Homo sapiens: one gene and its partner. The protein of the gene in region 1 purifies or fractionates together with the protein of each later gene. This does not show direct contact. Each region holds a gene or a part of one and is shown on either strand. Other genes may lie near its edges.

Region 1 (3,655 bases):
TGGGAGGCTGAGGCACAAGAATTGCTTGAACCCAGGAGGCAGAGGTTGCAGGGAGCCGAGATCTTACCACATCACTCCAGCCTGGGCGACAGAGCAAGACTCTGTATCAAAAATTAAACAACAACAAAAAAGATATATTTGAGGACTGAAAAAGCCTTTAAGGTGCAGGATAATCTGTGGTGGCATTTCACTCCATCAGACCAGACAGAGGAGGTGAGGACTAGGGAATTGGGTCTTTCCCTGGGGGCCTCAAATCATAACAGGTAGGAGACCCCATCTTTGCTACACACAAAGGCAACCTTGCATCTGATTAAAGCAGAATATCATGGAAGGAGGGTTTCTTGACCCTGCATCATGACTGTGTTCATAGCAGCACTCCAGGGTTGACCAGTTATGGTTTCTGCGCGGCAGGAATCTGCCATTCTTTGCCTATAAAACTGACAGTGGCCTGGCCTTTCCCACTCTGAATTGGATTGCTTAGGACTTTTTGTTTGTTTGTTCATTGTATTCTCTTTGTTAGGTTGGTTGGTGGCTGATTTTGCCCTTAAATCTATTTTGTCATGCTTGCCTGTATTGAACCTCATAGAATGTTTTGAAGAATTTCGTTTTCCAATTTGCTGAGTTATTTTAATTCTTATTCCACTGAGCCTTTAAATGTACAAGTAGTTTTATCTCTTGATAAAAATTAAAGTGACCCTGGGCCGAGTGCAGTGATTCATGCCTGTAATCCTAGCATTTTGGGAGGCCAAGGCGGGTGGGTCATCCGAGGTCAGGCGCTGGAGACCAGCCTGGCCAACATGGTGAAACCCTGTCTTTACTAAAATTACAAAAAGTATCCAGGCATGGTGGCACATGCCTGTAGTCCCAGCTACTTGGGAGGCTGAGGCCAGAGAATCACTTGAATTCAGGTGGCCTAGGTTGCAATGAGCTGAGATCCTACCATTTCACTCTAGCCTGGGCTACAGAGCAAGACTCTGTCTAAAAAATAAATCAATAAATAAATAAATAAATAAAAATAAGCCTGGGCAACATGGCAAAATCCAGTCTCTACAAAAAGATACAAAAAAAAAGTAGCTGGGCATGGTGGCACATGCCTGTAGTCTCAGCTACTTGGGAGGCTGAGGTGGGAGGATCACCTGACCCTCAGAAATCGAGGATGCAGTGAGCCATGATCATGCTTCTGCATTCCAGCCCAGGCGATAGAGTGAGACTGTGTCAAAAAAAAAAATTTTTTTTTATTAAATTGAGCCAAAGCACCAGACTTAAGTTATTGATTTAATTTCCTGTCTTTGGTAAAATTCTTTGGGAGACTTTACAAAGGAATTACTCAGAAGAAGTTTAGATGGTCACACATGGCTGAAAGGTCTCCCAGGACCACGCTTTTGCAGCTCTTTCATACCTGGTGTTCACTCTTATGGAAGATTCATTTAAAGATGGATTGTAGTTAGGGTGAGTCTAGTTTCTTAGGATTTTTGGTGATGATCTCTGATATTGAAAAAGTGGTATGGTTATCTTAGTCCCTGGATCATCCAGATCTTTCTAATAAGTTGATGTTCTCCAAGTACTATAAGAAAATCACCCAGCCTGGGCAACATGTTAGCCAAGAATGGTGGAAAATGCCTGTAATCCTAGCTAGTTGGGAGACTGAAGCAGGAGGATCTCTTGAGCCCAGGAGTACAAGGCACAGTGAGCTATGATTTTGCCACTGCACTCCAACCTGGACAGCAGAGCTAAAACCCTGTCCCTAAAACAACAAAAGCAATACTGCCTAATGGATGGAGCCTCTGGGAGGTAAACAGTGTGAATTAGGATTAGAGTTGGATTTGCAGGCTAGATCTGTCAAGTCTCCTAAAAACCATCACCTCCTATGGGTGGTAGAAAGCGGTGGTTATGTGAAGTTCTGAACTAGACAGAAGGGTCAATGTCTTTGGATCAAAAGGTTTCTTAGGATTCTGCCCGCCTGGCAGACTTTCGTCCTTCTCGTTATTATTCTAGAGCTTCTGGAAGCTGAGGTCTACTGAGAAGTCGTCCCAGAAGCAGAAAGTGAAATCCAAAACCTGCCTGTTTGAAGTTGGAGTCGACACACCCATCTCAAAGTGAGAAAATTAGTCTGGCAGGATAAATTGAACAAGCATTTATGGCAGACAGATAGATGCTTGGTGCTGTGATGGGGCCTATAGGTGGACCGCAAAGAAAAGGGTGCAATGGGATCCTTTCCTCTTAGAGAGCTCACAGTTTATGTGGCCCATTGGCCTGCTGGTGTTCTCCAACATCAATGTTCTTTCTTCCTTACCCTCATCCTTTTTTTCTTCCTTCCTATTTCTTGTTTCCTATCTCCCTCTTTTTTACCTTTACTTTCTAGCTTCACAGAAGAGATGCAATAGGCACAGAAGAGATGCAAAAGGCACTGACTTTTGCCTGAACCCTGATATCTCTCCACAGGACTAGGCTCTAAGCCCCTCATTTCAATGAGGGGCCATGAAGACGGGGGCATCCGGCTGGAGTGCATATCTAGAGGGTGGTACCCAAAGCCCCTCACAGTGTGGAGGGACCCCTACGGTGGGGTTGCGCCTGCCCTGAAAGAGGTCTCCATGCCTGATGCAGACGGCCTCTTCATGGTCACCACGGCTGTGATCATCAGAGACAAGTCTGTGAGGAACATGTCCTGCTCTATCAACAACACCCTGCTCGGCCAGAAGAAAGAAAGTGTCATTTTTATTCCAGGTTAGTTCTCTGCCCTCTGAGACTCGTCGAGTGCATGGGGGATCCTCAGCACACAGATGGAGCCCAGAACGGGGATGGGGGCAGCAGTGTGGGTGAAATAGTCCTGGGCCCTAAGGACCTGGAGGCTGCAGCTGAGTGAAGCCTTTCCGCTTCTCACAAAAGGAGAATCAAAGTGTCCCAAAACTCAGGAGTAGGAGCCTCTTCTCTGAGGGTAAACCTGTTTTTGTTGTTGTTGTTGTTGTTGTTGTTGTTTTTCCCCCCAATAAGGTCCTTACACTGCTGCAATTTTTTTTTAAGACAAGTTCTTGCTCTGTCACACAGGCTAGCATGCAGTGGCACAATCTTGGCTCACTGCAACCTCCTCCTCCCAGGTTCAAGCAATTCTCATACCTCAGCCTCCCGAAGGCTAGGACTACAGGCACACGCCACCACACCCGGCTAATTTTTGTATTTTTAGTAGAGATGGGGATTTCACCTTGTTGACCAGGCTGTTCTCGAACTCCTGACCTCAAGTGATCCACCTGCCTCAGCCTTCCAAAGTGCTAGGATTACAGGCGTGAGCCACCATACCCGGCCAGCAATTTTTAGACATTGAAAACAACCATAACATATGGAGGGTGGTGTGGATAAGTGACTCTCTACACTTGGTGTTCCTGTATGCTGTAGCCATCCCTTCCTGTGCAGGGGATTTTCCACAGGACAGAGCTGTGGAAATTCCCTATAGACACACACTCACAATTCATTCAACAAATGGTCAAGAAGCATATCGTATGTTCAAAACACTGTTCTACCAAGGGTAAATCATTGAACAAATTATATTAAGAACTCTTCCCTCAAAAAGTGATTAGTTAGCTAACCATATATTCTATCAGATGGTAATGAACATCTATAGGAAACATTAAGCAAGGAAGGAATAAAGAGGCAATGTGAG
Region 2 (3,655 bases), on another chromosome or scaffold:
AGAAGTTGAAAGTACATAAGAAATTAAAGGTTACTAAAAGCAAAAATTCTAGCAGTTGTGTGTTTACTTTAATATACTTAACAGTTATAGAAAAGGCATTCTGTGTGTGTGTGTATATATATGTGTGTGTGTGTATATATATATATATATATATTTTTTTTTTTTTTGAGACAGGGTCTAGCTCTGTCACCCAGGCTGGAGTACAGTGGCAAGATTATGGCTCACAGCAGCCTCGAACTCCTGGGCTCAAGTGATCCTCCCACCTCAGCCTCCCGAGTAGCTGGGACTACAGGTGTGTGCCACCATGCCAGGCTAATTTTTGTATTTTTGTAGAGACAGGGTTTTACCATGTTGCCAAGGCTGGTCTCAAACTCCTGGGCTCAAATGATCCACCTGCCTCAGCCTCCCAGAGTGCCAGGATTACAGGCCTGAGCCACTGTGCCCAGCCTAAAACAGGTACTTTGAACACAGATATGTGTTTGTTATTTTTTGGAAACTTATTAACAGTAAATGTATGAATCTTTTATAATTTATGATTCATATGCTTTGAAATTATTATTTCGTTAATAAAGTTAATAATATTTTGTTAAATAAAGTTATTTTCTTATTAAGGAAGGGTAGTCTATCTCACTTAATCACTTGAACAGGCTAGAATCACTCTCTCCTTTCTTCAGGCCAAGCCTCCAATAACCTTTCTACACTGATTATCTGAATCTAGGTTTCCAAAGGAATCTAAGGCATAGGCAGGCAGGCCTGACTCAATTTCATGGACTTAAAGTCAACATCAAAAATAATATTCTAAAACTCTAAGCATTTTCACTAGTCTTCCAACAGGGTCACACACAACCTACATTCCCTATAACTCCATCATTGACTCGCCTGGGACCTCATACTGTTTCCCCCTACAAGAACCTCACACTATGGTAGCCCCAAAATACACTGCTAGAAAAATCTCGCACCAGACAACAGATGGGAGAAGCACAGACAATCACATTCTATTTATATCCGGTGTCAAATCCCTTTAGACGGGAGCAATGGGGACATGTTAATTAGCAAAAAGATTAATGCAACAGAACAGAACATACCCAGGACCTAATGAAGGACATATACAGATATCTAAGTAAGTCCCATTCTTATCCCTGAAGTTAACATCAGGAGCCAAGTTTCAAAGATAAGCCATGATATGTATTAAGCATGTTCATAGAAAAGTCAAATCGAGCCTCCTTGGCCTCTTGGGGTTGTGACTTACTATAAGTCAATTGTTAACATTTTTAAAAAGAACTTGCTAAAGAGCCAAAATTCATTATAAAATATAAGGACAGACTTTAAGATAATCTTACCTTAAAGTCTGTTCTTTGACATAAATTTTTAGTAATCATCAATTATTCCCATTATAGTGTTTAGGAACTATGTGTTTAGTATACAATATAAAGGTTTTTAAAAACTTTTTGGTTTAATTAGGGTTTAAAATGCAATCAAACTAATCAAGATTAGGTTAAGAGAAATAAAAAATAACAAGAAGTACAACATGCTGAACATTTATAGTTGCCTATGTAGTTAGATAAATAAATTTATTATTCAACTCTTGCCTGAAATACCTGGGGAGAAAATACCTGGGGAGATATATACTGCATACTGATTTTCATGCCCAAAGAATAATTGTGTTGTGTTAACTACATTATCTATCTCAGGAAAACCAGAGTGTATGCATAAGCGGCTAGTCAGGATTAGTTTAACTGGAGGATAAGAACAACAACAACAACAATCTTGCATCTACACAAGGAACAAATTCAAAACCTTGGCCTTATCACTACAGTGTTTCTAATTAAGCAGGCAATGTGTGAAATCACAGCTGACTCAGTTGTCTTAGAAACTATCAATTCTAGTAAGGTCTCTTTTTTTTTTTTTTTTTAATTACTGTCTATAGGCAGTACACATCTTCAAAATACTTAAGGGATAGGATTAGGGGATAAGAATTTAATAAATTTTCTGTTATATCTCACATTACCATTGAAAGCAGTCTCAAACAAGCAAATGCTATTTAACTACTTAGATTGCACAAAATACTATTTTTTATGTGCTTTTTCTTTCTTGGCTGCCTTTTATTTGTACATGAAATTCATTTTGCCTTAAAGATAGAAAAAGTTTGGTATTATCTCTTACCAGACCCATAAAAAGGCCAAAAACCAAGGTGGCTATGACGAAAAAGACATAAGAACACCAAGCAGGAATTCCAAGAGTCACTGTGAAATAGTTGTGAAGATGCTGGAATCAGAAGAAAAAAAATAAAACATTAATTTTTAAGAGAACCAAAAATATTTCAATCTCTCTCTCTAGCTGTTGTTTCTACATACATAGGTTCCCACAAAGCTTTATGTATCTAAATGATTCTTAAAGAACAAGTCAATTTTATAATATTGGGAAACTGAGAGTAGTAATTAAGGTCATTACTAAAAAAAAAGTTATACTTGCTTAGAGTTCATAATCTGGATAGAATTCTGGTAGAATCGTTTTGATAGTCCTTTCTTCCATCATGATGGATGCTTTTGGCCCTCCTCCCCTAATAATTATATACATCTCAATGTTTACTTATAATAGGGCATTCATGAAAAAATTAAACTTTTTGGGCCTCTGACTTTTTAGTAAAACTAAATTACGACTTACAGAACGTCAATCATTTAAAATGTCTCCATACCTCTTTTTCCTAATTAGACTCTCATTGCTCTACACCTATTCATCCTTTCAAAGTTTGGTAAATTACCAGAAAACATAAAATGTAACAGTAGACAGAAGAAAGTTTTTCTGATTAATTTATTATGAGCAAATGAGATTCCAGCAGTCTTTGAATAGAGTGTATATCCCTTCATGCTTACTGTTCCCTAAGACTCTATTTGATGACAAACACTCTAAAAATGAGTGAAGGGACATAATCACAGCTAGAAAGTATTTACATGCTAAATCATAAAGAAATTAACAGATATGAACTTGCTATTTCAAAGTCAAAACCTACTTAGATGTAGAGTTGCAGGAGCCATGCTTCCTCACAATCACTTAGTCATTTGTTCAAGACCCTGACAGCTTCAAAAATGGCCATTAAAATTCAAGTAACTACTGGACACAGGATGATATGGCTCCAAATATCATCAGCAAGAGAGGTAATGACAATGACTTCCCTAGAACCAGTAAGGTTGATGAAAATGAGTCCAAGTTTCTATTTTAATTTCCTATTTCTCAAAATCTAAATCACTCCCATTGGTTTCTTAGTTTATGTCAATGCAATTAAAAAACATATTTTATTCTGGCTTAATTTGGAATGATAAATAAAGAACAAAGCTTGTAAACTGATTTAGCAAAATCTGAAATATCTCTCTACAATTTCTTATTCAGCAGAAGAGATAGAGCTAAAGACGCAGCAAGTAGTTTAAACACTGACACATGGAATCAAAGTGTTCAATCAGTATTTGTTGAATAAGGAAAAGATGCATCAAATGCCTGAGCTATTTATTCATACGAAAGGCAAACACACTCTCAAACTGTAAAGCTGGCATCTGTCCTCTGTTGATGGCACTGGTCATCAGTGTGTGTTTAGCCAGGACAACTGTTTATTAAGAGTAACTTGGCTGGACACGGTGACTCATGCCTGTAATCCCAGCAC

The links.
Region 2: the proteins of BTN2A1 (region 1) and TMX4 purify together in Homo sapiens (affinity purification with mass spectrometry; 3 studies listed by BioGRID and IntAct, with this or other methods). This does not show direct contact.

Annotation. Positions count from the first base shown.
Region 1 is NC_000006.12:26,460,802-26,464,456, forward strand, and holds part of BTN2A1 (butyrophilin subfamily 2 member A1 isoform 1 precursor), read left to right. Parts: intron 1-2,442; coding exon 2,443-2,724; intron 2,725-3,655.
Region 2 is NC_000020.11:7,985,125-7,988,779, forward strand, and holds part of TMX4 (thioredoxin-related transmembrane protein 4 precursor), read right to left. Parts: intron 2,266-3,655; coding exon 2,164-2,265; intron 1-2,163.